Linked DNA regions of Homo sapiens. The protein of the gene in region 1 interacts with the protein of each later gene in a pairwise test. Each region holds a gene or a part of one and is shown on either strand. Other genes may lie near its edges. The genes, in order: TOMM6, C1orf159, SLC10A1 and SLC18A2.

What was found.
Region 2: the proteins of TOMM6 (region 1) and C1orf159 interact in binary tests that used the Homo sapiens proteins (3 or more experiments, as listed by UniProt).
Region 3: the proteins of TOMM6 (region 1) and SLC10A1 interact in binary tests that used the Homo sapiens proteins (3 or more experiments, as listed by UniProt).
Region 4: the proteins of TOMM6 (region 1) and SLC18A2 interact in binary tests that used the Homo sapiens proteins (3 or more experiments, as listed by UniProt).

The regions. Positions count from the first base shown.
Region 1 is NC_000006.12:41,783,194-41,790,395, reverse strand, and holds TOMM6 (mitochondrial import receptor subunit TOM6 homolog), read right to left. Parts: upstream 2,703-7,202; 5' UTR 2,699-2,702; coding exon 2,571-2,698; intron 1,165-2,570; coding exon 1,068-1,164; 3' UTR 1,060-1,067; intron 866-1,059; exon of another isoform or gene 829-865; 3' UTR 501-828; downstream 1-500. Other genes in the region: PRICKLE4 (prickle-like protein 4), read right to left, coding at 3,267-3,634, 4,064-4,268, 4,856-5,059, 5,324-5,461, 6,158-6,265, 6,791-6,922.
Region 2 is NC_000001.11:1,106,075-1,113,096, reverse strand, and holds part of C1orf159 (uncharacterized protein C1orf159 isoform 2 precursor), read left to right. Parts: intron 1-7,022.
Region 3 is NC_000014.9:69,794,235-69,802,189, reverse strand, and holds the start of SLC10A1 (hepatic sodium/bile acid cotransporter), read left to right. Parts: upstream 1-4,948; 5' UTR 4,949-5,034; coding exon 5,035-5,390; intron 5,391-7,955. UniProt on the Homo sapiens protein: As a major transporter of conjugated bile salts from plasma into the hepatocyte, it plays a key role in the enterohepatic circulation of bile salts necessary for the solubilization and absorption of dietary fat and fat-soluble vitamins.
Region 4 is NC_000010.11:117,272,107-117,279,128, reverse strand, and holds part of SLC18A2 (synaptic vesicular amine transporter), read right to left. Parts: intron 1,968-7,022; coding exon 1,863-1,967; 3' UTR 1-1,862. UniProt on the Homo sapiens protein: Electrogenic antiporter that exchanges one cationic monoamine with two intravesicular protons across the membrane of secretory and synaptic vesicles.

The DNA.
Region 1 (7,202 bases):
CCAAACCCTGGACAGTAGCACTACCATGAATTTTAGGGTCACAAAACATTTCCTTCTGAAGGAAGCAGCTGCCTCAGCAGTGTCACTTTAGTGACCACTGCCCAGGCTTACTTCACTTTGCCTCCCCCTACACATCACTGCCCTCTTTCTGCCACCAAACCTCACTATTCCAGCAATGATGCCTCCCTGGTGTCTGGAAAACCCATCTGGTGCACTAAAATGCTATGCAACACCAAATGGCTTCTTCCCCTAATATTGCTCAACAATGTAAATTCTTCAAGAATAAACTTCATGCTAGGTTAACATCAATGTATGGTTACAGCTTCCTTTTTTTTTTTTCCCTTTTAAAATGAAGCAAACCACCTCCATTAAAATCCATGTTTTGGGGCTTGTTTTTGTCTCTCAAGTGTGAAATATAAATCATGTTTTTATGATTTTTGTAAATCTTTTTACACCTTGTTTTTGTAAGCAAAAGTTTCTTATTAAAAGAATAAAATGACTGCCTTTGTGTGCGGTATTTATTTCAAATGTTTTTTAAAACAGCACTGTTATTTCTCAGGACAAGAGCAAAAATCACCCCCTGCAGAAGCTTGGGAACTATGTACAGAACTTTACAGAATAGAGGCAATACTTTAGCTTAAGCCTGTCTGCTGACCAGAGAATGGAATTCTGCGTGGACTCAAGGAACAAAAGGAAACTAGGCAGGGAAGGGGAAGAAAAGTGCCCATCTGAATCAAACTTCAGCTGCCATCAGGGCACATCTTGTGGTGGTCACAGATTGTAGGCTGTTTTTTGGAAGATTCGGGTTCAGCACAGGATTCCATTTGTCTGCAATCAGATGATAAGACGACAGGTGGCATTAGAACTGTAAAAGTATGGGAGGGAAACTGGTAAGAGATACTTAAATCCCTTTCAACATCTGAAAACACATTTAACTAGGAATAGTTAAGGGTTTTACATCACATTCTTTTGTACATTTCATGAATACTTGACAGAAAACATTGCTTCACCCAGTCTCTAGGTCTCCTAAGACACGCATGGGTGTAGTTCAGTGCTTACCTACTTGGCTACACCCCTGGCTGAGGTGCCATGAGGTCAATGTCACTCAAGTTCCTGGCCAGCCAAACTCCCGCAGCAAAGAGTCCCAAATTTAGTATCAAGTTCCTGGAAAAACAATGTGTTTTATTAACCCTGTGGTCACTGAGTCAGTTGTACAGTTAACGAAATGTACTGGGGGGAAAGGCTTCCATCACCACCTTCCCGAGGCGTTGATACGTGGTTGTGACGGCAGGTTGCTCAAGACCCACGTGGGAATTTGGAGTTCATTTTTGTGCCTAGTAAGTGTAAGGTCAGGCTGGGCGCGGTGGTTCACGCCTGTAATCCCAGCACTTTGGAAGGCCAAGGCAGGCGGATCACGAAGTCAGGAGCTCGAGACCAGCCTGGCCAACATGGTGAAACCCCGTCTCTACTAAAAATACAAAAATTAGCTGGGCGTGGTGGTGCGCGCCTGTAATCCCAGCTACTGGGGAGGCTGAGGCAGGAAAATCGCTTGAACCCGGGAGGCGGAGGCTGCAGTGAGCTGAGGTCCGCCACTACACTCCAGCCTGGGCGACAGAGCGAGGCTGTCTCAAAAAGAAATAAATGTGGCCGGGCGCGGTGGCTCACGCCTGTAATCCCAGCACTTTGGGAGGCAGAGTCGGGTGGATCGAGAAGTCAGGAGTTTGAGACCAGCCTGCCCAAGATGGTGAAACCCCGTCTCTACTAAAAATACAAAAATTAGCTGGGCGTGGTGGCGCGCGCTTGTAATCCCAGCTACTGGGGAGGCTGAGGCAGGAGAATCGCTTGAACCCGGGAGGCAGAAGGGGCAGTGAGCCGAGATTGCGCCTCTGCACTCCAGCCTGGGCGACAGAGTGAGACTCCGTCTCAAAAAAAAAAAAAAAAAAAAAAAAAAAGGCCGGGCGTGGTGGCTCACGCCTGTAATCCCAGCACTTTGGGAGGCCGAGGCGGGCGGATCACGAGGTCAGGAGATCGAGACCATCCTGGATAACACGGTGAAACCCCGTCTCTACTAAAAATACAAAAAATTAGCAGGGCGTGGTGGCGGGCGGCCGTAGTCCCAGCTACTCGGGAGGCTGAGGCAGGAGAATGGCGTGAACCCGGGAGGCGGAGCTTGCAGTGAGCCGAGATCGCGCCACTGCACTCCAGCCTGGGCAACAGAGTGAGACTCCGTCTCAAAAAAAAAAAAAAAACAAAAAAGAAATGTAAGATCAAACGCAAAGCCCAGCTAAAGCACTAGTCCAGGGCCGAAAAAGCCTGTTTACGTGCTAGCACTTCTTCCCTTGATCAGGGTGACATTACAGATACAGCCACATGACAGAAAGATCGCTTTTGCCACACGGGAACTCTCCTGGCCAGGGATCTCAGTGAGGCACAGCCAGAGCTACGAAGACGCCACAATGCTGGTAATGTTAAAAAACAAAAACAAAAAACCCTGAGGCGCCAGCCTCGCAAGAAAGGGGAAATACGGATTTAAGGGCCAGAAAAGGACCAAGTTCCTCGGGCTCGGTTACCTCCGGAAGTCATTCCTATCAGTGGCAAAGCGGTAGACGCCCCGAAGCCAATCTCCCACGTTGTCCGGTATTTCGGGAGTTTCATTAGCCGAGCCAGCAGCGCTCACCGGGACAGTGCTGGAAGCCATAGTGGAAAGCTTCGCATGGGCCTCGGTGGAGGAACCGTATCGGCGTCGCCGGTGAATGACGCACCTCCGGTCTGGCACTTCCGGCTGCTACCGGCCGGCAGTGGGGGCGCTGTTCGCTTAGTCCGACATCCGGAAGAGGGACGGCCCTCTGCTGCGCCTCCACGAACTCTAGGAGGGGAGGAGCGCGGCCCGGTTCTACGGTCCCCTGCTCCCGGTCCCACCTCCGGCTCTCCAGCCGGTAACTGTCACGCGTGCTGTGATCATTTAATTGGCTTGGGAGGAGGATGGTGGGGACGGGGCTGTCCCAGCCTGTGGAGGTGGGGGTAGGGGCTATCTCAGCAGGGGAAGCGTAGCTTTGGGGAATGGGTTTTGCCAAGAAAGTCTCCGCCAAAAGTCTTAGAACGCGCAGTACTGAAGGGGGCGCACTCCAAACTTGTCACCTCGCCGCCTCTTGCGGGCGTGCGCCTGACTGCGTCTCAGTCTAGGATTGTTAGGGGGAGGCTAGCCTTGTTCTCCCGCTTTACAGACCCCTTTCCTCCCACTCACATCCCCTCTCTGAGCTGCGCCACTAGCACATGGTGCAGTGCGTCTTAGAGGCGTTGCTGTCCTCTGCTTGGAGGCTTCCGGGGGTCTTCCAGGACTGGGGAAGGCGCTCGCCTAAGAAAAATCCTTCAGGTTCCGAGTCAGAGGAGGAGGAGCAGGTGGAGAAAGGGGTGTCCTTGGGATCACGAATAGTCTCCAGGCGGCATTGCTCCTGCCCTTTGGGTGCCTCCGCTTTGTCCCCAGGTCGGTTCTCCTGCTGGGGACTGGATCCAGGCAGCCCCCTCTGAGTTTGCAGGCTGGAACCGCCGGCAGCAGCGAGGAGTGTTCGGGAGAGGGTTGCAGAGTTCACCGAGGTTTGGTCCCTTCCTTCAGTTCGGTCGAGTCCAGTCTCCCCTGTTCCGGGCCGGGTCGGAAACGCTGGTCTCAGAGCCGCGGAGCTGGACCTACACCGCAGCTAGTGGGGGTGAGGCCCAGCCTCCCGCCCCGCCCAGCCCCTGGGCCGTGCGCGCCGCCGCCGCCGCCGAGAGTCCTCGCCAGGGTCCCCCGCCTCCACCAGAGGGCGTCCGCCTCCCGCGCCTGGGAGGGAGTCTGGCGCCGCAACCCCGACCGCGGCGCGGGGTGGGTTCGGGCGGCCCTTGGAACGCTCCGGCCAGGGATGCGCGGTGAGAGCTGCGGGCCCCGAGGCTTGGGTCTGGGGGGTGCGGTGGGGGCGCTCCTGGAGGGACGGGACGGCGTGGGACCGGGGCGAGGGTCCCAGCCCGGGAGAACCCCCACAGCCCAGCCCAAGCTCCCTCCCGCTTTGCTCTGCATCCTCTCCCTTACCAAGGAATGCCTGCCCTTCCAGTGCCCCGGCCCAGCTCGAGCCTGCATCCGAGTAGCGGTTCTCGAAGCAGCTGGGGCAGCAGGGGCTTCCCCCAGGCAGGGCATAACGTCCCCCGCCCAGAGGCCCGGCGCAGTCCTGGCAACAGAAGTGGTTCTCATGCCAGCGCTGTCCCTCCGCCTCGGTGCAGCGCCAGGAGAAGATCAGCTGGGAGAGGGAGAGGGAGAGGGGAACGTTTCATTCATTCATTCCCTCATTCATTCATCCAGTAACCACGCCTTTTACCCAGTTAACGCTAAAGCACGTCTGCACACATTCCCATTTAATTCACTCAGCCACTTTTGGACGCAGGGAGGACTGATTGGCTTAGCCAGGATCCCAGCTAGCAAGTGGGACAATCCCCAGTGCGACCTGGGGGTCTGGACTCCCAACCCAGGGCTCCAGGCTTCCTTTTATGCTGACATCAAGGGAATTTCTAGCATGATGAGGCACAGCACTGGGCACTCGGCATCTACTGAGATGAGCATGTGTCCAAGACTCCCTGCTCTAGAGAAATTCGATGAGTCCAGGAACATTTGAGGGACTCTGCAGTGGGGGAGGCCAGAGAGAAGGGCACTGGGTCCTACATGCCCAGAGCTCAAGTCAGAACACAGGGAACTTGGTAGTCCCAGGCTGGTTCCTACTTCTCCCCACTCCCTGATACTGGGAGAAACTGTGGCCCAGGAGAGTGTCCCTTTGTATCCTGCCACTCTGGACTCTGGGCAGACCCCCAGTTCCTCCCCTCCAGGCTGTACCTGGTCACAAGCCGGGCAGCGCGGGCGCAGCAACTCTGCATGATGACGGCCGCAGTAGAGTTGTCCATCATGGTAGAAGTAGATGAGGTTTATCAGGGCCTGGCCACAGGCCTGGCAGGCAAAGCAAGGCTGGTGCCAGCAGCGCTGTTCCCCTGCCCGGGCTGCAAACACTCCGTACTCCCCTGGCTTCAGCAGCTCCCTACACTGTCAGAGGGGAGGTGCTGAGGTGGTCGGAGTAAGCACTACCATCCTAACTTCCCTCCTTGCTCTTGCAATCCGATCCCAACCTGTTCTCGCCATACCCTAGCAAGCCCACATCCACTGCAACCTATACCAAGAGCTTGCAAACTTGGTTTCTGTTTTTCCTGTTTCCCAACCAGAATCCCAGAAGCTAGCCCAGCCCCTTCTGCAGAAATGAGAGGGCAAAGAATAGAGGAAGGGGAATTTGGGGGGAGGGGTGCTACATACCTTCTCACAGGTGTGTCCTTCAAGCTTGGGAAGTACCAGGCGGGCTACCCCCTGTCCCAGGGCTTCCTGCTTCCGCCTGGCACAGAAGAGCTGCAGCTCGGCCCGCTCCTCCTCCCCAAGGGCCAGGCAGTAGCGCTCCTGCAGAAACAGTCCTCTACAATTACTGGGAGAGCTCCAGCAGAAAACATTGAGCATTGGTTGGAGGAAAAAGGGCTTGGCTGCTGGGTCAGAGAAAGGTTGTAGAACCTCAGGGAGATGCCAGAGATAATGGCATAGAAGAGGAAATGGAAAAGGAAAGGAGCTCAAGAAAGCCACCTCAGTCTCACCCTGCCCCACTAGGAATGTCATCAATCAGGTCCTGACAGGCCCACAGCACTTAGCCCTGTCACCATTAGGTCCTTGTTCCCAATGAGCTAAGAGCTCAGTATCACTTCCCATTCTTGCATTTCCTCAAATTATTTCATATACTCCTGTCTTGCCTCCCCAATTGAATTGTAAGCCTTTAGGCTGGACACATGTAGACCCTCAATAAATACGTAACAACCATACTCTCTACATTTGTACATTCCATTATCCGTTTCAAAAGTCGTTCATGTCCATTTTCTCATTTGCTCTTGAACTAAGCATTGTGGTGGGCAGAGCAGATGTTATTGCACCTGCTATTGTTATTGCCAATGTGAAAACTCAGGCAGGGGGAGAATGACGCCCCAACCAGTGCCATAGCTGGGCATTAAATCCACATCCCCTAACTTCTGGACTGAGGTTCTTCCCACAGTAAGAAAAGAGATGAGGGAGGGAAAGGCAAGAGAGGGAAGATGGGGAGAGGAGACCCACATCAATGTCCTGCGGAGGGAGTTGCTGCAGGAGGGTCTGAAGTCCAGTCCAGTTGGGGGCTTGGTTGGTGTCCAGGCAAAGGGAACCCAAGCTCAGAACTGCAGGACCCTGAGGAGACATGGAAGAAGGGGAGGAGTGAAACTAGGTTTTTCTTTCCTTTCTCCTTCTTTCCCCCTCATCATTGCCACCTCTTCTCCAATCTAGAGCAGCTTCTAAGCATGCCCTCCATTTGGGAGGGTCCTCCTTGCAGATCCTCACTGAGTGCAAGGATAGCTGACTGATGCCTGCATGTGTGGTCTTCCTTGAGGGAGGCTGGGGAGGCCCCACACCCCAAAACAGCTTCCCTTCTTATGCTTTCCCTTCTTAACCCCCTTCACGCCTTGGGGCCAAAGCCCCTAGAGTCTGGTTTGACAATACAGACCCCCTAGGAGAGATAATGAATACTCATGTGAATGAGTTTAAAGTCAAAACCCCATGTTCTAAGCAGGTGCAGAGACAGGAATTCCTGAAAAGAGAAAAAGGCAACAAGAGATTAGGCACGAAGTCAAACTACCTCCGGGTTGGTGGAAAAGGGTGGCCACTCCACAGGATAGAGGACATGTTGGTCTCAGAGGAAGGGCACGACTCTACTACCTGAGCATGGGTATCCTCAGGGTCCTCCCCCGGCAGGTGGCCTGAGTCACTGTCTGAGTTGGCTGGTGGACCTGGATCCTGGGGCTTGGGGCTGTCTTCTTGGTGGGGCCAGCCAGAGTTCTGCACTGACATTTGTGGCAAAGCCTACCCCAAAACAATAAGAACACCTCCATGTATTAGGCCGTTACAATGTGCTAGGAAGTGTTAAGTGCTTTATAGATATTATTTCCCTCAGTCCTCCCAACACCCAAACGACTTAGGTAGCATTATCCCCATCTTACAGATGGCCCAACTGAGGATCAGACCTTGAGTAGCATGCCCAAGGTCAAACAGCTAGTAAGTGGCAGAGCCAGGACTTGAGGTCAGGTCTTTTGGTCCAGAATTTCTGAAGTTCAAATTCTGGGGTCTCCCA
Region 2 (7,022 bases), on another chromosome or scaffold:
AGCCTCCCGAGTAGCTGGGACTACAGGTGCCTGCCACCACAACCGGCTAATTTTTTGTATTTTAGTAGAGAAGGGGTTTCTGCATTTTGGTCAGGCTGGTCTCGAACTCCCAACCTCAGATGATCCACCCACCTCAGCCTCCCAAAGTGCTGGGATCACAGGCGTGAGCCACCGCACCCCACCGACTAAGGCAAGTTTTAGAGCAGGAGTGAAAGTTGTTGAAGAAGCTTTAGAGCAGGAAGGAAAGGAAGTACCCTTGGAGGAGGGCCAGACGGGCGATGTGAGAGATCAGGTGTGCGGTTTCACCTTTTGACTTGGGGTTTTATAGCCTGGCAGGCTTCTGGGGTCTTGCACCCCTTCTCCCCTGATCCTTCTTCAGGGTGGGCTGTCCACCCATGCAGCATCTTGCTAGTACTTGGGCGGGAGCATGCGCCATGTGTTCCCTGGAGGGAGGGAGCATGCCCGGTGTGTTCACTGGAGGGAGGGAGCATGCCCCGTGTATTCACTGGGGGGAGGGAGCATGCGCTGTGTGTTCACTGGAGGGAGGGAGCGTGCGCGTTGTGTTCACTGGAGGGAGGGAGCATGTGCCGTGTGTTCACTGGAGGGAGGTAGCATGTGCCGTGTGTTCACTGGAAGGAGGGAGCATGCGCTGTGTGTTCACTGGAGGGAGGGAGCGTGTGCGTTGTGTTCACTGGAGGGAGGGACCGTGCGCCGTGTGTTCACTGGAGTAGTGCCCATGCTCACCTGAGGCGTTCTTCCGTTACCTGTCAAACGTCCCTAGAAGGTCATAGAACGGTTACACGCCGCCATTTTGCCTCTCAGTGCACACGCTTGAGCCAACTCGCCCAGTTCCTGAGATCGTATCGGGAAGCTGCCCATCACCGGATTTCATGTGTTTTCTAGCTATTGGGAGCCTGTCTTTCCCTGGCGCTGGGTGCAACCAGTTCTTTTAGACAGTTAACAGCCACCTGACCATCACCTGATGGTGGCCTGACATTCCCGGTGGGGGGATGGGCCCGATCCTGCCCTGCTCACGTCTGCTGAGCCACCTACGGCAACCGCCCGACTCCGGTGTGCTGAGCCCACGGGTAGGTGGGCAGCGACTACCATGCATGTCAACAAAGGGGGATGTCTCCTTTACACCCCATCAAGGGGTTTGCGGTATTTGTTTTCTATCAAAGCACGAGAGGGATCTTTAGGTAGAGAGGCCCCAGACAGTTCTTATTGGGCCCTTAAAGCTACGTTTCACGTTGGCTTCCTTTGCTTGCTACGAAGATGACCAGCATTAGCTACACGGATGCAGTGGAAGCTCCAGCCAGCCCTCGGGGCTGTGTTTACCGAGGTTCAGCAGCGTGAGAAACCCGCCAGTGGACCCTCCCGCCTCCCCTTTTCAGTTACTGCTGCCTGGGCGGCTGGAGTTACGGTGAGCGTGGGTGTGGTCTACCCACTGCCCCAGCCGGTGGTTGCTTTTACAGGGTTGTTTTGCAAGATGTTACTTATTTAAAATCACAGTGACCTGAGGCATCATTTTTTTCTTGAAACCAGTTCTTTGTTGTTGTTGTTGAGACGGGGTCTGGCTCTGTCGCCCAGGTAGAGTGCAGTGGTGCGATCATGGCTCACTGTAGCCTTGACCTCCCAGGCTCAAGAGATTCTTTCACTTCAGCCTCCCAAATAGCTGGGACCACAAGTATACGTCACCAAGCCCAGCTATTTTTTTTTTTTTTTTTTTTTGGTAGAGATGAGATCTCACTCTGTTGTCCGGGCTGGTTTTGAACTCCTGGGCTCAAGCGATCCTCCCACCTTGGCCTCCCAAAATGATGGGATTGCAGGCCTGAGCCTCCACACCTGCCCTGAAACCAGTTCTTCTAAGGGAAAATAAGAGTGGTCAAAGAGTGTATAGCACAATTTAAATTCTCACTAAATTTTTCATTGCCTTGTAGAAATTTTCATCCCATTATTTAGCTTTTTGGCTCCAATGAGATTTTCAAAATAGAAAATGCATGTGTTTAGTTACTAAGGCATAATTTACATGCAGTGAAACACACAGAGCTTGTGTCCAGTTCAATTGTTTTGACAAAGGATTCACCAGACTCCTGTCGTGATGTAGAATCTGCCTGTGATCCATGGAGATTGCCTCGCAGGCTGCTCCAGCGCCCGCCTGCCGCGCCAGACAGGAGCGCTGCTGTGATTTTACCGACACTCTGAGTGTTAGGAGTCACACGTGCGGGCGGTTTTGCGTCTGCCACGGCTCACGCAGAGAACTGTTGTTGAGCTTCCTCTGAGGTGCTGCACAAGGAGTGGGTGTGGGATGCGCTGTTGCGTGCTCGTCGTCTCTGAGGGCGCCCGGGTGGGTTTCCGCTGTCTGAAGAGTTGGGCCTATTTTTGTGCACGTGTTTGGCGGGCGTGTGTTGTTTCTCTTGGGAACGTGCCCGGGGGGAAGGCTGCATCCCAGGTGTGGAAGTCCCAGCGGTTCTGTGTGTCCCCACAGCCGAGAGGCTGAGTGCCGTTTGGTCGTGGAGGCTTTAGTTTGCATTTCCCTGACGCTCACCCGTGTTGAGCACTGTCCACTCATCTGTTGCCATTCGCACACGTTTTCTGAGTGTCCGAGGATGTCTTTTGCCCATTTTTTTGATGACCAGATTGTGAAAGTCCTTTATATATTCCATATTCAGGGCTTTTGTCTGGTACGTGTACTGTGACTATCTCCCATTCTTTGATTTGCCTATTAATTTTATTACTGATGTTGTAAACTAAGAATAAAATCCTAAGTCCCCCGCCGACTGAACGAGCTCCCTCTTGGTCAAGGGGACCCCAGAGAAACCTTAAAAATTGAGTTTCCGGCCATAAAAGGATGGGAGGTTGGACACACCTGGTTATACTGCCACCCTTTTTCAGTTTAGACACAACTGACCAACATTAGTGTTAAAGTGGAGATCACGAGACTGACAGACTCTGCGGCAATAAGACGCCGAGTTATAATCAGGACCTAAGGCCGTGCCAGGCCGGGGTTAAGTCACACACCCTTACAGTTAAAGAATAAGGCTTGGGTTTTCTTTTCCTCTAGCAGTTAAGCAGGCACTGGCCTGAGACAAGCGGTATGGAAACAGTGATGGCTCGCTGCCAGGCACTAACTGACCCCCCATTTCACGGCCATAACTACAGCGTCACTTTCCATAACTTCCTCCTGATAAGACACCACTGGCCACGGACTGGTTCTGCTGGTCTATGGAGGATGTGACTGGAGTGACTCCCGGGCCGCGCCTCACCTTTGGCCATATAGGGCCTAATTGTCTTACATGTAAATGTGAAATCTCACCTCTCAGTGAACATGGGTCCTGCGTTACATGCATGTTTATCTAGTACACATGCATTAAGACAGGAGAGAGGAGCGCTTGAGCCCAGGAGTTCAAGACCAGCCTGCGAAACACAGCAAGACACCCTTTTTACCAAAAAATAAAAATAAAATTAGCCAGATATGGTGGCAGGCATGTAGTCCTAGCTACTTGGGAGGCTGAGGCGGGAGAGTTGCTTGAGCCCAGGAGTTCAAGATGGCGGTGAGCTATGATTGCACCACTGCACTCCAGCCTGGGCAACAGAGCAAACCCATCTCTAAAAGAAAGAAAGAAATTTTAAAAAGGAGGAAAGGAAAGAAAGGAGAAAAGAGGAAAGGAAAAAGGAAAGGAAACTGTTCCCATTAAACACTAACTCCCCATTCCTCCCTGCCCCCCAGCCCCTGGCAACCACCGTTGTCTTTTCTGTCTCTATGAATTCGACAACCCTGGGAACCTCATGAGTAGAATCATACAGTATTTGTCCTGTTGTGATGAGCTGCTTTCACTTAGCATAGTGTTTTCAAGGTTCATTCCTGTTGTAGCATGCGTCCAAAATTTCTTTTCAGGACTGTAGAATATTCCACGGTCTGTATAGACCACCTTTTGTTTATCCATTCATCTGTGGGTGGACACTTGCTCCCACCTTTTGGCTGTGGTGAACAATGCTGCTGCAGACATGGTGGCTGTGGTGAACGGTGCCGAGACATGGTGGCTGTGGTGAACGGTGCTGCCGAGACATGGTGGCTGTGGTGGACGGTGCTGCTGAGACATGGTGGCCGTGGTGGATGGTGCTGAGACATGGTGGCTGTGGTGAACGGTGCTGCCGAGACATGGTGGCTGTGGTGGACGGTGCTGCCGAGACATGGTGGCTGTGGTGGACGGTGCTGCTGAGACATGGTGGCCGTGGTGGATGGTGCCGAGACATGGTGGCTGTGGTGAACAATGCTGCTGCAGACATGGTGGCTGTGGTGAACGGTGCCGAGACATGGTGGCTGTGGTGAACGGTGCTGCCGAGACATGGTGGCTGTGGTGGACGGTGCTGCTGAGACATGGTGGCCGTGGTGGATGGTGCTGAGACATGGTGGCTGTGGTGAACGGTGCTGCCGAGACATGGTGGCTGTGGTGGACGGTGCTGCTGAGACATGGTGGCTGTGGTGAACGGTGCCGAGACATGGTGGCTGTGGTGGACGGTGCCGAGACATGGTGGCTGTGGTGAATGGTGCCGAGACATGGTGGCTGTGGTGGACGGTGCTGCCGAGACATGGTGGCTGTGGTGGACGGTGCTGCTGAGACATGGTGGCTGTGGTGAACGGTGTCGAGACATGGTGGCTGTGGTGGACGGTGCTGCTGAGACATGGTGGCTGTGGTGAACGGTGCCGAGACATGGTGGCTGTGGTGAACAGTGCCAAGACATGGTGGCTGTGGTGGACGGTGCTGCTGAGACATGGTGGCTGTGGTGAACGGTGCCGAGACATGGTGGCTGTGGTGGACGGTGCTGCTGAGACATGGTGGCTGTGGTGAACGGTGCTGCTGAGACATGGTGGCTGTGGTGAACGGTGCTGCTGAGACATGGTGGCTGTGGTGAACGGTGCTGAGACATGGTGGCTGTGGTGGACGGTGCTGCTGAGACATGGTGGCTGTGGTGAACAGTGCTGAGACATGGGGCTGTGGTGAATGGTGCTGCCGAGACATGGTGGCTGTGGTGAATGGTGCTGCTAATGTGTCTAGAATTGGTGGATTCTTGGTCTCACTGACTTCAAGAATGAAGCCGCAGACCCTCGCAGTGAGTGTTACAGTTCTTAAAGATGGTGTGTCCGGAGTTTGTTCCTTCTGATGTTCAGATGTGTTTGGAGTTTCTTCCTTCTGGTGGGTTCGTGGTCTCACTGGCTTCAGGAGTGAAGCTGCAGACCTTTGCAGTGAGTGTTACAGCTCATAAAGGCAGTGCAGACCCAAAGAGTGAGCAGCAGCAAGATTTATTGCAAAGAGCGAAAGAACAAAGCTTCCATAGTGTGGAAGGGGACCCGAGTGGGTTGCTGCTGCTGGCTCCGGCAGCCTGCTTTTATTCCCTTATCTGACCCCACCCACATCCTGTTGATTGGCCCATTTTACAGACAGCTGATTGGTCCATTTTATAGAGAGCTGATTGGTCTGTTTTGACAGGGTGCTGATTAGTGCGTTTACGATCCCTGAGCTAGACACAGAATGATATTTACAGTCCTCTAGCTAGACGTAAAAGTTCTCCAAGTCCCCACTAGATTAACTAGACACAGAGCAGCGATTGGTGCATTTACAAACCTTGAGCTAGACACAAGGTGCTGATTGGTGCGTTTACAAACCTTGAGCTAGACACAGAGTGCTGATTGGTGTATTTACAATCCTGTAGCTAGACATAAAGGTTCTCCAAGTCCCCACCGGATTAGCTAGATACAGAGAGTGCTGATTGGTGCATCCACAAACCCTGAGCTAGACACGGAGTGCTGATTGGTGCATTTACAATCCTCCAGCTAGACATAAAAGTTCTCCAAGTCCTCACCCGACTCAGGAGCCCAGCTGGCTTTGCCTAATGGACCCAGCGCCTGGCCGCAGGCAGAGCTGCCCACCAGTCCAGTGCCGTGCGCTACACTCCTCAGCCCTTGGGTGGTTGATGGGATCGGGTGCCGCGGAGCAGGGGGTGGTGCCCGTTGGGGAGGCTCGGGCTGTGTGGGAGCCCACGGGCGGGGGTGCGGGGGGCCTCGGGCATGGCAGGCTGCCGAGCCCTGCCCCGCGTGGAGGCAGCTGAGGCCCGGCAAGAATTCGAACCTGGTGCAGGGGGGCTGGCAGTGCTGGGGGACCCTCCACAGCTGCTGGCCCAGGTGCTAAACCCCTCACTGCCCAGGGCCGGGGGTGCCGGCAGGTGCTCTGAGTGCGGGGCCCGCCGAGCCTGCACCCACCCAGAACTCACGCTGCATGCAGCCCCGGTTCCCGCCTGCAGCTCTCCCTCCACACCTCCCTGCAAGCAGAGGGAGCCGGCTCCGGCCTCGGCCAGCCCAGAGAGGGGCTCCCACAGTGCAGCGGTGGGCTGGAGGGCTCCTCAAGTGTGGCCAGCGTGGATGCTGAGGCCCAGGAGGTGCTGAGAGTGAGTGAGGGCTGCTAGCATGTTGTCACCTTTCACTAAGACATGGTGGTTGTGGTGAACAATGCTGCTAAGATATGGTTGTACAAATGTCTCTTGGAGTCCTGGTTTTCAGTTCTTCAGGGTGTAGAACCACAAGTAAAGTTGCGGGGTCATAGAGTAATTCTGTGTTTAATTTTGTGTGTGTGTTTAGTTTTTTGAGAAACTGACATACTGTTTTTCACACCATTTTATATTCTCAGCAGCATGCACAAGGGTTCCATTCTCTCCACATGCGTTTGCCAACATTTATTTCTGTTTTTTTGGTAATAGCCATTCTAATGGGTGTGGAGTATTTCATTTTGATTTTGATTTGCATTTCCCTAATAGTGACATTAATCGATAGTTTTTAATTGAAGTATTTAATTTAACCATTTGTATTTAATGTAGGTGTTAGAGTGTTTGGGTTGGAGTCTACCATCTTTATGTTCGATTTCTGTTTTTCCACCTGCTTTTCCCTGCTCCTCCTTTGCTTCCTTTTTTGTAGGTAGAGGGATCAAGTTGTCTTCAATTTTATCTCCTCTGCTGACTTTTTAGTT
Region 3 (7,955 bases), on another chromosome or scaffold:
CTCTTGCCTCAGCCTTTTAAGTAGCTGGGGATATAGGTGCCTGCCACCACACCTCGCTAATTTTTTATTCTGTGTAGAGACTAGGTCTTATTATGTTGCCCAGGCTGGTCTGGAACTCCTGGACTCAAGCAATCCTCCTGCCTCAGCCTCCCAAAGTGCTGGGATTACAGGCATGAGCCACCATGTCCAGCCTCTACAGCCACATTTATACCATAAGTCACTACCATATTTTTTAATGGCTACATTCTTTTAAATGGGCCATAACCAATCACCTACTAATAGATATTTAGGTTATTTCCAATAGTTCACTATTACAAAGCAATGCTGCAGTGAAAATCTCTTTACGTAGATCCTCAAGCAATTATCTCTATAGGATAATTTTCTACAAGTAGAATTCTACTGTCAAGAGCAATGGCTGACTGAAGGCTTTTTATGCCACTTCAGAATCTGGGAAAATAGCTGACTTTTGCCAGAGATGAAATTAAAATGTCCCTTAAGTAAAATTTACACAGCCACCACTACCCCCCCATGATTGTTTGGATGTTGTGTTTGTTGTGTTGCTTGCTACATCCAGCCTGTGAAAGAACAAGTCTAGGCCAGTTTGGAAAAAATATGCAATCACAGGATCTTTTCCAGTCAAAGCTTTCAGGTCTCAAAAAGCAGGCTAACTCGGGAGACAGGATGAGGCAAAAGAAGGAGCAGGTCAGAAGAGCAGCTGGGGCCCGGAACCAGGCTGGGCATGAATACCAATTGTACCACTCACTAGCCATGCAAATTGGGCAGATTATTTAACCACTCTAAGCCTTTTCCTAACCTATAAAATAAGGATAGCAATAGCATCTTATCTCATAAGGCTATTGTGAAGACTAAATAAAAACGTGGGCATTTAGTGCTATACATTTCCCTCTTAACACTGCCTTAGCTGTATCCCAGAGATTCTGGTATGCTGTATCTTTGTTCTCATTAGTTTCAAATAACTTATTGATTTCTCCCTTAATTTATTTGCCCAAAAGTCATTCACGAGGAGGCTGTTTAATTTCCATGTAAATGTATGGTTTTGAGCAATTTTCTTTGTACTCAATTCTATTTTTATTGCTTTGTTGTCCAAGGGTGTGATTGGTATAATTTTATTTTTGTTTTTTGCATTGGCTATGAATTGCTTTATGTCCAATTCTTTGGTTGATTTTAGTGAATGTGCCATGTGGCAATGAGAAGAATGTATATTCTGTTGTTTTGGGGTGGAGAGTTCTATAGATGTCTACTAGGTCCATTCAGTCAAGTGTTGAGTTCAGGTCCTGAGTATCTTTGCTTTGATGATTCGTCTTGCCTTGATGATCTGTCTAATACTGTCAGTGGGGTGTTGAAGTCTCCCTCTGTTATTGTGTGGGAGTCTAAGTCTCTTCATGGGTCTCTCAGAACTTGCTTTATGCATTCACCCCCTCTGGAGGATGCAGCAACAAGGCATTATCTGCAGAGAGCAGCCCTCATCAGATACTGAATCTGCCAGCACCTTGATCTTAGACTTTCCAGCCTCCAGAATTATAAAAAATAAATTTCAATTATTTATTTTTTAAAAAGAACTTGCTTTATGAATCTGGGTACTCCTGCGGTTGGTGCATCTATATTTAGGACAGTTAGGCCTTTTTGTTGATTTGAACCCTTCACCATGATGTAATGCCCTTCTTTGTCTTTTTTCATCTTTGTTGGCTTATAGTCTGCTTCGTCTAAAATTAGGATTGCAACCCCTGCTTTTTTCTGATTTCCATTTGCTTGGTAGATTTTTCTCCATCCCTTTATTTTAAGCCTATGGGTGTCATTGCATGTTAAATGGGTCTCTTGAAGACAGCATGCTGTTCGGCCTTGCTTCTTTATCCAGCTTGCCACTCTGTGCCTTTTATTTGGGGCATTTAGCCCATTTACATTCAAGGTAAAGGGAACACTTATACACTGCTGGTGGGAGGGTAAATTAGTTAAACCATTGTGGAAAATAGTGTGGCAATTTTTCAAAGAACTAAAAACAGAACTACCATTCAACTCAGCAATCTCATTACTGGGTATATACCCAAAGGAATATAAGTCATTCTACCATAAAGACACATGCACACGTGTGTTCATTGCAGCACTATTCACAATAGCAAAGACATAGAATCAACCTAAATGCCCATCAACAGTAGGCTGGATAAAGAAAATGTGGTACATATACATCATGGAATCTATACAGCCGTAAAAAAGAATGAGATCATGTTCTCTGCAGGAACACAGATGGAGCTGGAGGCCAATATTCTTAGCAAACTAATGCAGGAACAGAAAACCAAATACTGCATGTTCCCACTGATAAGTGGGAGTTAAATAATGAGAACTAATGGGCACGAAGAAGGGAACAACAGACACTGGGGCCTACTTGAGGGAGGAGGGTGGAAGAAGGGAGAGAATCAGGAAAAATAACTATCAGAACTATCAGGTACTATGTTTAGTACCTGGGTGACAAAGTGGTCCGTGCACCAAACCCCCATAACACAAGTTTGTCTGTAACAACAAACCTGTACATGTACCCCTAAATCTAAAATAAAAGTTAAAAAGAAATGTAATTTAAATCACAGCATCCATCACACAGCATGTGCTCAACAACTCTCAGGTATCATTAACATAACACAAAAAGATCTTCCTGTTTCCAAAATTGTATTAAATTAGAGTAGATTCTGAGGGGATATGGGGAAAAGAATGGAGGGTGTCAGGTTCCTGGAAGAGATTTTTCCATTCTCTGCAAAGTCACATTGCTAGGAACAGAGGGAATGGGAAGGAGTGGGAGGAGGGGCAGCCAGGGCAAGAAACTGTTTTCTCAAAGGGAAAAACTCACAGTAGGAGGTGGAAGGATTTTGGGTTCCTGAGAAGAGGTGAGGAGGAAGAGTTGATAGAGACTACGTGGTTTAGAATCCAGGTTACAAATGTGTTCATAGGAACTCTTCTTCTCTTTGGATGTGCACAATAGACACATGCCCAGACCCTGATCTTTAACAGATATTGGTCAATTCCTCCTCACCCTTTGGCATCAGGCAAATGTGTAAAAACCTAACGTCTCCCTTTGACTTCAAGGCCTCATGTACGGTTGCACAAGACATCTGTAGAGTGGCGTCCCTAGCATTGTGTAGTGCCCAACCTGAACAGGTGTACCTGGCAGCCCTGCATGGCCTCCACCCTCACGTGCTTCCATATTGCATTGTGTACCATCTGGCCATCTGTGGTCTTGTACAGACCATCAGGTCCCTGAGAACAGGAACATGAATTATATAGTTTTTTTTATTTATTTATTTTTATTTTTTTTGCCTCCCATGGTGCCTGGTACTCAGTTAGTGATCAATAATTCTCCCCTAGCAACTCTGTTCCCTTCTGATTAGCCCCAGGGAGAGGAAGCAGCCTCCTCTGAGACTCAACCCTACCCTGTGGGAACGCTCAGTCCAGGCATCACATCCAGTGCCCAGTCCTCTGCCTGCCCTCCCTTTGATACCAGCCCAACTCAAGCACCAGGAAATCATTAGCAGAGACTCTCAAAGGAAAAGAGGCTTCAAGTTCATGTCACCCAGGGCCACAGTATACGGCCCCGCAGGCTGCCCACCGCGCAAGCCCAGGGAGCAGCCTTTTCATGGATATGATGCAATATGTATGGATCCTGCCATCCAACCCTTATCCAAGCAGGATTCCAGAGGCCTCAAGGCCATTCTTGGAGAGCTCTCATTTTCAGGTGGTTCCTTGCACCAAGCCAAAATCTGTCCCCACCTCCACCCAACAGTGGTTCACACCCTGGTCCCTATTCTGCCCTCTGGAGTCCTACATACAAAGCCTAATCACCTGTTTCAGACCCCACCCAGGCCTCCTAGGTTCCAACCAAGCCAAGAAGCAATTGTGTTTCTGAAGGAGACCCCTCCTCCCTTGTCCCACCTCTGCAGTGGGGATAGATGGAAAGAGCAAGGCCTAGGATAACCTCACACACTAGGTGGCCCCGCCCCTGGCATGCCCACCTCTCTCTGCTTCTGCTCCACGCCCCAAGCCTGGCTCCCAGCCTGAAACACACAGGCCCAGTGCAAAAGTAAAGCAATCAGGAAGTCAGGAAGAAAAGACTGCATTCCTGCTTCCTTCTCAGCAAGTTTTGCAAGCAATGGGCCTCCTCGGGCACAAAGCAATCTCCACAGCCAGGGTTCTCTCAGGTTGCTTTTCGGGGAAAGAGCCTCCAAGCTTCCTGAGAGCCCACCCACCATCCCAGCTGGTTATTCCCTCTGATGGTAAGCATTCCAGGTAGTGTGGAGCAGCCACCACCAGTATTCCTCCCTGGGACTCATACAGTCCCAGTTTGGGGATAAAACAAACATTTCCCCAGAACAGGCAGGGAGGATACTGGCATCCTCTCAGCTCCCAGGAAAAGGGTCATGGACACATCCCCTCCTGGAGGCCAGTGACATTGCCTGTCCCACACCCCCTTGGACTATGCTACCTGTATCTAGGAACCAAAGGCAACACCCAGCTCCTTTCACTCTCATGGGTTCTGGGGACAAATGATAACCCACTGGACATGGGGAGGGCACCTTCCCCCAACCAAGAAACTAAGGAATCAAGAGCGGAGCTGGGAAAAGGAGCTGCAGGGAAGGAGATGGGCTGGACCTAGATTCAGGTGGGCCCTGGGCAGGTCCCCAGTAACTGAATGAATGCCCATGAGGCACACTCAGTGGAGGGCAAAGGGGAGAAATAAGCCCAGAAGCAGCAAAGTGACAAGGGAGGAGTACAAGTAGCACCCAGGAATCCAGCAGAGGTCAGGGAGCTTGGGAGAGCTAGGGCAGGCAGATAAGGTTCTGGGCTGTTCCTCTTTGGGGCGACAGCCAGAGAAATAGCTCAGATAGTTGCATAACCCTTCTATTTGCCCAGAGCTTTTGTCCAGAAACTCTCTGTCCTGAGAGGTGATTAAAGAAGGCATCCAGCAAGAACTGCACAAGAAACGGAGTCAGCCGGAGAACAAGGAGTGGTCTTCCACTGCCTCACAGGAGGATGGAGGCCCACAACGCGTCTGCCCCATTCAACTTCACCCTGCCACCCAACTTTGGCAAGCGCCCCACAGACCTGGCACTGAGCGTCATCCTGGTGTTCATGTTGTTCTTCATCATGCTCTCGCTGGGCTGCACCATGGAGTTCAGCAAGATCAAGGCTCACTTATGGAAGCCTAAAGGGCTGGCCATCGCCCTGGTGGCACAGTATGGCATCATGCCCCTCACGGCCTTTGTGCTGGGCAAGGTCTTCCGGCTGAAGAACATTGAGGCACTGGCCATCTTGGTCTGTGGCTGCTCACCTGGAGGGAACCTGTCCAATGTCTTCAGTCTGGCCATGAAGGGGGACATGAACCTCAGGTAGGCCTGGGGGTGAGGAGGGAACAGCCTGGGACAGGAGCTACATTAGATATGTCACAATTGAGGGGAAGAGCTGGGCTAAAGCCAGGAAAAGGAGTGAATGCAGGCTGGGTGGAGGCTAGGGCAGGGGAAGTCTGGCATTTATTGCCAAGAGCTTATGCTGGGATGGGGGCAGGAGTTGGGGTACGTCTGGTTTAGGCACCAAGCCAAAGGGACCATACTGGTCCAGGAAGCTCGTGGTGATCTCCTTGCTTCCAGAGGTGTCTCAAGGATTGTCTTAAAGGAGCACTGATTAAAGCCAAAGGAACCTCTGGAGAACTGCATCCACCTACAACAGTGGACAAGTTGCCTGCTTTGAGCCCAGAGATTTAAAAGGTAGTGTGATTCGTTCCAAACATCATCAGGGAGATCAAGGTGACTTGGAACCAAATGAGCACCTCAAATTCCTGCAAAGCGGGCAAGAATTTCCAAAAGGTCCTCCCAATTACCTGGTCATCTAAGATGTTTTCTCTTTAAAGTCCCTCATTCCCCATCAGATGCAATGACATTTCCATGCAAAGGCACAACCAGGGAGATCCTAGAGTTTCCCAGCACCCACTCCAGATAGGCCAGCCCCATCTCAGCCACCCTGATAAGGGGAAGACAGCAGCACCCCCTAACCCCCTGCCCAAAGCATTATAAGCAGAAATCAGCAAGGGCTCGCTCCTGGAGACGCAGCACACAGGGGCTGGTTGATGCTCATCCTTCCAAACTGGGGAGACTCTAGTCTTGAACATCTGCCAGAGGAGCTACTTCAGACCTGCTCCAGCTCCAGCAGCCTGTGCTGAAGCTAAAGAAAACTCACTAGCAGAAGCTCTTGCTTTCAGTGAAACCTCAGTCTCAAGCCAGTCCCCCCTGGTTTAGTCCTCCGTGGAGACGCTATTCAATGCCAGGTATAGCAGCAGAACCCAGAAAGTCCATCTGCTTGTGTCTGTCAGCACCCTACTCCTAGCCAAACTTTCCTAGGAAAACTAACCCAGTCAAGAAGCCCCTCCTAGTGATGCAAAATGACACTGGGACAGATTTTTTAAATGAAAAAAGTGAGAATGGCTGGGCACGGTGGCTCACACCTATAATCCCAGCACTTTGGGAGGCCAAGGCAGGAAGATCACTTGAGACCAGGAGTTTAAGACCAACCTGGGCAACATAGCAAAACCCTGTGTCTACAAATATATACATATATATTTAATTAGCCAGGCATAGTGGCACATGCCTGTAGTCCCAGCTACTTGGGAGGCTGAGATGAGAGGATCTTTGAGCCTACGAGTTCAAGGCTACAGTGAGTCATGATCACACCACTGCACTCCAGCCTGGGCAACAGAGTGAGACCCTGTCTCTCTCTCAAAAAAAAAAAAAAAAAGGAAATAAAAAAGTGAGAGTGAATGAGAGTTGGGGTTTAACAGGATCTGCCATCTGAGAAGCTCTGGGCTCTTTTTCCATATGATTCAGCCCTCACTTTAGTAGTCAATGGGAAGAGAGGCACAAAGAGGGCATTTGGCTTGTGCCATCACCCACGGAAAGGTATTTCAATGTTCAACTACCTCACTGTGAGAAAATGCTTTCCTCTGTCTAATCCACATCCTCTCTGCTACAAAGCAAGCCCTTGGTCTTGGATCTGGCTTCTGGACAAGGCTCATGGCAGCCTGTGTGTCCCAAGAATCCTAGAGTATATCTGAATTTTGGTGTATGAGGGATGCAGAAGTCAGGGGCCTGCGAAGGGGTACTCTGAGGGCTTTGTGTTTCTGTGGAAGAAGCAGAGCAGGGGACGTGGAAGGCAACTGTGCTTTTAAGTGTGAGTGGCCAGATGTCCCAGCCCCATCGCCAGTGGCCACTATTGAGGCCTCTGCCACAATGCCTACATTGCTGTGGCTCTAGGCCCCACCCAGGCAGAGCCTCTGGTGACTCAAGAACATGACCCCTCATGCTCTCCTGCTCAACCTCCTTGTCCAGACCCCTGATGACTGTCATTTTTACCTAGACCCCCACAAGAGATAAGCTCTGCTGGGACAGCCACCTTCTGCCATAAAACTCCTTCCCAACAAACAACCCTCCCATGCACATTAAACCATGTCTCAGATCCCACTGTCGGAATGGGAATCTGGTCATCTACCTTCATGTGCTGCCAGACTTCAAATCCCATTCCAATTTGGGACAACTTGTTACATGCATTATAATAATGACAACGATTATAAGAAACAGCCAGGCACAGTGCTAAACACCTTACCTGGATAAGTATATGTGATCCTCCTACAGCACCCTGGGGGACAGCATGTAACAAGTAGCATTTAGAGGTAAGGAAACTGAATCTTAGAGAGGTCAATACATTGGCTCCAGGTCTGGGTGGCTCCGGAACCTGTGCTTTTACTGAAATATCTTCCAGGTCAGCATTTCCACAAACAAAATGGCCAGACAGCCTCAAAGGCATGGGCAGACACCCGTGTCTCAGCAGCAAGTATTGTGTGGGAGCCAGAGCTTCCCACTTTTCAAAAGAAGGTAAAATATCCATTTTATGTGAAATCAGCAACT
Region 4 (7,022 bases), on another chromosome or scaffold:
TGAAGGTTTTATTTATATTTTATCTTATCCCGAGGGACCAACAGCAGGCATACCTTTGCCAGGCCTTCTTGCAGAAAGACACAGAGCCGTAAAGGCAAAAATAAAATTGCAATAAAGTATATGGTATTGGGGGCAGGGAGAACCAGAAACCCTCAAAGAGAACCAATTTGTAGCACGTTCTTTTTTAAGGCTCTACCCCTGTAGAAGTAAGAAACTAGCCTGCCTTTTTAGCCATATGAGAGTTTCCTCCAGAGCCATCTTCCAAAGTGGCAGACTTGGCCAAGTTGCCCAATGCCAAATAAGTGAGTTGGAAGTTCGTTTGCTTCAAACACACTGCACTTAGAAACCAGACTTGAAATAATCGAAGCCCCACAGAAAAGCTTCATGAAACGAAGTGTTACTTTCCTAGAGAATAAGAAAGTCACAAGATTGAGGAGTCTGTTCTAAAGTTCTTTGCTCCTTGATGTCGAAGTTAACACAAACACAATCTTAGCTTAACGAAACTAAGTAATTTTTGTTTATGATTATAGAACTGCAGGATTCACAAGTAGTATTAGAGACATTCCACACTGCACACTCCAGTCATATCTCTTAACAAAATGACATAAATTGACAATGTTCACTAACAGTATTTGCTGTTACACTGAAAAGGCACATCAATGTTGTCATGCTTAGAAAAATACACAACACTGCACACTGGATGATATAGTTAGCACATACATTTTTAGATGTTCCATTTTTCTTTTCTGCCTGATCACTATTATTTTTACTTCTTAATATATGATTCAAGACATAATTTCATTCTTCATTTTCATTTAAAATTTGTCTTCACATTGATGTGAACAACTTTCAGGAGTCTAAAAAATAGTAGTTTCAGACAACCTAAAATAAATATATTCCTAGAAAACACTTGGATGACCTGCAAACAGATCAAAGATATAGTCAGATATTAAAGTCAGAGCAGCTGTTTTCAGCTTCTTGTTTCCTTTTCTAAAACTTGAAGTAGATGGCGATTAACCTTATCATGTTTAAACAACCTTGACAGTATAAGGTACATGTACCCTCAATTTTCTTCATCCAGTAAGACAAGTATGCATCTTAAAGGGAAAGCTTTTAGTTCATAACAATATGTTTGGTTGCTTTTCTCTGCTTTCGGAACATTTACTGTTTTTCCTTTATTGGCTTTAGTGTTTGCTGCCAACCAGATAACATGTTAACATATAATTTACAACTCTCTCTAGGTAGGTGATTACATAGAAAACTAATGCCAGCTAAGATTTATGGATTCAAAAGATAACTGACACAAGTTCTTGTCCTCTACACTTGAGAGAACTAGCTGTTTAACGCATAAATATATTGATAGTAACTACAAGTTAAATAACATTCAGTGTCACTATATAACATGCTGTCTTACTTGATTCTGTTTTTCAGACTTCATTCTAGTTTCTCTTTGTTGGAAGAGTCTCAGAGATAATGTGTGCTTTAATTTTAAACACTCATTACCAATATGATTTTTGCCCAAATGTTTGTTAATGTAAGTTAAAAAATTATATTTGGTTTGGATTCAAATATTTATAGATTTACACAATACCTATTTCATCAAAATATATTGTATGATATTTAATAAAATTAAATACATAAAATAAAGTTTCAACACTATTTATACAAACCCCTAGAAAAGCTTCTTTTTCTTTATAAGGCTGTTGGCAATCGACCATAACCATGGAAAGGAAATAATAACCTTTGGTTTTACTCTTTCACCAGGGATGGATGGTATGACTAAGACAGTTCTGGATGAGTTGTGTCACTGGAAACACTGTTTTATACAATTAAACACTTTGATGATTTTTGAGGATCTCATCTCAGTCACTTTCAGATTCTTCATCTTCACCTATCGGATATGACTGGATATTATTCTGAGTGTACATTTTTGTTTTAATAGGGCAGTTGTGATCCATGAGAATAGCCTAAAAGAGAGCAAAGTGCAAGTATATTAACTTCTTGTTTCATAAAGATAAGATGGTTTTAACCTACTGTTTTTAAGGATTATTAGTTTGAAAACTATGTAGTATTACTTGCTATTAACCAGTCATTTGGAGCAATCGCCAGACGCCTGACCTAAAAGACCTGTAGTTCTACACTCTAAAAATTCCAGGCAATTGGAGACAGAAGTGGTCTCTGCAGTATTTTCATTATACCTGTCAGGGGCCATAAGTCCACTCTGGGAACTTATACTCTATGAAGCAAGGGACAGGCAGGTTAGGTTTGTTATACTTAGAATCTTGGAATTGGGGTATGGGGATCCTGGAGGTCACCCAGTCCAACTTCTGTTTACAGACGTCATTGTAGCAACACACCTTGAAAGGATGTGCTCTCTCCTTAATGAGAGAAGCCCTCACATGTGAGAAATGTACCTAAGTCTGGACTACAACCCGTTTCCATTGTTTGCATTCATGAATCTGGTTCTGGTATCTTTTTCTTTCTTTCTTTCTTTCTTTTTTTTTTTTTTTTTTTTGAGATGAAGTCTTGCTTCGTCACCCAGGTTGGAGTGCGGTGTTGTGATCTTGACTCACTGCAACCTCTACCTCCTGGGTTCAAGCAACCCTCCCACCTCAGCCTCCCAAGTAGCTGATATTACAGGTGTGCACCACCACTCGCAGCTACTTTTTTTGTATTTCTAGTAGAGATGGGGTTTCACCATGTTGGCCAGGCTGGTCTCAAACTCCTGACTTCAAGTGATCCCCCCTCCTCAGCCTCCCAAAGTGCTGTGACTATAGACACGAGCCACTGCACCCAGCCAGTTCTGATATCTTCACAGGCTGCCCTTACAATCTTTTGTTGTTGTTTTGAGACAGAATGTCACTCATGCCATAGTGCAGTGGTGCGATCTCAGCTCACTGCTGCTTCCCAGGCTCAAGCCATCTTCCCACCTCAGACTCCCGAGTAGCTGTGACTACATGCATATGCCATCAAGACTGGCTAATTTTTAATTTTTTTTTTTTTGTAGAGATGACATCTCACTACATTGCCCAGGTTGCTCAAACTCCTGGGCTCAAGTGATCTTCCTGCCTCAACCTCCCAAAGTGGTAGGATTACAGGTGCAAGTGACCATGCTTGGCCCCCAATCTTTTAAGACCATATTGTCATGGCCCCTTAGATTTCTTAGTAGGCAAAACATGCTAGAGCTATTATTTTTTCACACATGTGATTTCCTGACCGCCTGTCCCCAATCCTGGCTGTCCTCTAGCTAAAATATATGATTTTTTAAAAATCCTCTTCTGATGAGCATGAAACTCTCATGCCCTCCTTTATTGTTACTGAAAATTTAAAAACTGTGACAAAAACGTGCTGCTCTGCTTTCAAACCAGATTGTCCAATAGTATTTGCTTATATTTGATAGCTGGCATTTATCATGCCAAGACCATGCTAAGCATTTTAGTGGCAATACATCACAATAACCCTCTGTGGGAGGTGAGAAAACAGGCACGGAGCAGTTAAAGAATTTGACCGAGGGGTGTACAGCTAGGATGGGGCAGACAGGAGCCGCCTGCAGCACTCCGTGGTAGTTAGATGAGCACAGAGGATGGCAAGGGGGCGTCATGTGCAACTAAAATGAATTATCAGGTATGTCTTGAGTTTTTCTCCATGTGAACTACTCCCCAATATTTTTTTTGCAGTTTGCAAATCTAAATAGATTAAAATGTATCTGATGTTGGCCTATTGTAACCCATCTTGTCTGTTAGCTATTACTCCCAGCTCTTGTCCCCAGATAAGACTCGACTCAGTGCTTAACCCATTTATCATTTCCCAAGACATTATCCAGTGATCTGTGTAACATGTGAAGATAAGGACTTCCTTGACCCTCTAAGTTAGGCTGCCAGCTCAACCTGTCAGCTTCTAACTTAACTGTTTTTTATGCTGCTTGCCAAGTGAATTGATACTTGTATTCAATAAAGAGCTCAATTTTTAAAATAATGGCGGCACTAGACTTTGTACACCAGGACCGTTCTCCCCATGTAACACAAAGGTTTAACCCCCCTAACAATAAATGTCTCATCTCCCCCAGATTAATGATTCGCAAGGAAATGTAGGGGTGGAGAGATGGAGCAGGTTAAAAAATGAAATTTGAGGGCCCTGTCCTCATGTGACAACAGTGTCAACTTTGAGAAACACTGCCCTAGTTACATGGCATTATCTAAGACTACAGCACTGTCATCTGGCTGACAACAGCTGACGGGACACCTACTAGGTGTTGCATCTCAGTGCCTTTAAGGTCCTATCCCAGCATCTTAGTTACCTCCCTGCACAGGCAAGGACAGGGACTCCAGGGTCCCAGGTGGAGTGCTCACTGCTGGTTCAGTGCCCAGGGAACGCTATCCTATAGAGGCGGGAGTTGAGGTAAACTTTGAAAGATGGAAAAGGTTTGGACAGCAAGGGAGGTGGCAATGAGTAAAACATGAGTTATTTACCAAGCAGGACACTAAGTAAGCCAGCCTGGCCACCACAGAGGTCTGCTGAGGAGGCACAGTGAGATACCAGTTGGGACACCCAACTGGAATGCAGGGCATGGGGCCTCGATCCTTGCACGGCTCCCAGGCAGGCAGGTCACCTTATAAAGAACGGTCATCACTACCTTATTCCTAATTGCCTTCCATCTCTTGGCTCATCCACATTAGACCTGAATGTAGGAATATGTCATCTTAAGGACCCCAGAACCTAGGACTGGGCACATGATAGGAACGCAACAAAAAACTGCACTGCAGGAAAAGCAGTTCAGTCAGACTATTTGGCATCATGCATACTTAACTGACCAGCATTTGTCAATTCACCAAAAACATATTTATTAGCAGCCTGTTTCAGGTGAAGTTTTCCTCCTTTAAATGTTCTGTAGCCTTTAAAACCTAGCTCACTGGCTTCCAAACCTCTCTTGAAAGATCTATTGTGCAATAATTGTACTTTTTAAAAAAAAGTTATACACAAATAAGCCAGGTGGCATGTAATGTTTCAAAAGTGCCATGAAGAAAGGCATGAACAGCATCAAGCAGGTCAGTCAGGTGCCCGGGGAACAAGTAGGGCGGCCGCAGTGCAGGCAGGTAAATTAAATCTGCTCTCCACACACTGCTGTGGTGAGGAAGGTGTGTTTGACTCTCAACCAAAGAGAAAATCAATAGGAGAGGATTGGCATTTGAATTCAGAGCAAAGCCCTCTTACTGAGAGGTGAGCCCCAGCCCCTCCAAATGCCCCTTTCATGAGTTAGGATCTCCTAAGTGGTACAAACAAACCAACATGGTGGACCAAATGAAAAGTATAAGTAATACAAAGCTGGGGTAGTGAACCCATAAAAGCATTAAAAGATAAGAGTGCCAGTCTTTGAGATTTTGATGATAGGTCCTGGGCCTTCTGAGTAGGAAAGTTTTATTCTCTTTAACATAACTAGAAAAGCAATGATGGTTTTGCACCCACTATTTAAATACCTGCAAAGGGACAAATTCTATAAACAACTTAGAATATGCAGAATGTGGTCTATCTCAGCAGCCTCGGGCCACCCCATCCTTGCCCCACGCATGGCATCCAGAAAACAGAGCTATTGCTGGAAGGGCTTTATGGAACAACTATCAGAGCCATCCAGGAAAAGAAAGCTGCAATCCTCAAACCACCTAATTTCTTGTCTTGGCAACAATTAGAAACTTCAAGAGTAAAATTAAGAAGCGTGACTTGTCTTTAAAAATAATTCTTCAACCTGGAAAAAAAAATCCGCAACACAGCTCTTCTCAACTGGGAATTTTGAGAGTGAAGCGCTACCGTGTAACTGTCTTATAAGACACTTTTCCTCAAATGGTAATGTTGATATTTCCTGTATGTGCAGAGGGACTTGAGTAACAGTTTTTTTCCTCCACCTATACTGATAATGCTGATTATAAAAAACAGAAATCCAGTAAACCAAATGGAAGACAAACTCACATGCTTATAAACTAGTTCATGATTCTGTCACTTGTGATCCATGAAAACAGCATTATATCTTACAATATAAAACAGCTTAAGTCCAAACACCTTGTTATCAGGATGCTGTCTAATGGAAGAATGATTTGCTAAGGGTCGTATGCCTTCTGGCCCTCACATCCCCCAGCATTTGGCAACTGCTCATCCTGAACGCCAGCACTTGTCTGCTCTGGGGTTTCTCAACTGCATGGTCATTGATTCTTCCTCCTCCCTCACACACTGCTGTCCTGCCTGCATGCCCCCTTATCATTAGGTGCTGTCGGCCGCCACCGCTGGCTTCCTGCTCTGCTTGCACAATGAGTAGGCAGCAACTGCTGGCCACCACTCTCAAATGTCACCATTAGGCCAGTCAAATGGCATCCAATGTGATGCCTTCAATTATGGGCATCATTGATGGGCAGCGAGATGCACACCTTCTCAAGTTTTTAATGATTTATCTTGCTAGGTGCTTATTAAGGATTGTAACATCTTGCAGTGAAAGTGGCTTCCTGGAAACCTATAATTCTTACTGTTTGGCCTTTCAGGATCGTCTCTTCCACTTCCTTCAGCATTTTTTTAAAACATGAACTGAAGTATTCGTTTAAATGGGGAAAGAGGAGGGGTACTGAGGCCTGCCTTCTGCCAGTCCTTCTGCGGAACACAGTGGTAGTTGGCTGGGCAAGCACATTCTCTGCTCATCCTCTGACCTCATTCATTTCCCCAAGGCCACAGATAAGCCATCAGGCTGCCGTTCACAAACGGACATCACAACAGCCACTGATGTTTGCCGGCTTGGCAAGGGGAGCCCATTCAGGAGTTCTGGGGTCTGTATAGCAAAAGGAAACTCTCACATCACAGAGGAGGAAAAAGGGAGAAAATTCAGGTATTGCTGGACTGACGGGGGAAGCCAGAGAGTTAGATAAGCAGGAAAGAGTGGGGTGATATTGGAAATAGGAACACACTTTTTGAGCCACAGGGCCAGTCACTCTGTTGGGATTCTTTCATTTAATCCTCACAACAATCCTATGAGGTAGACGTTATCA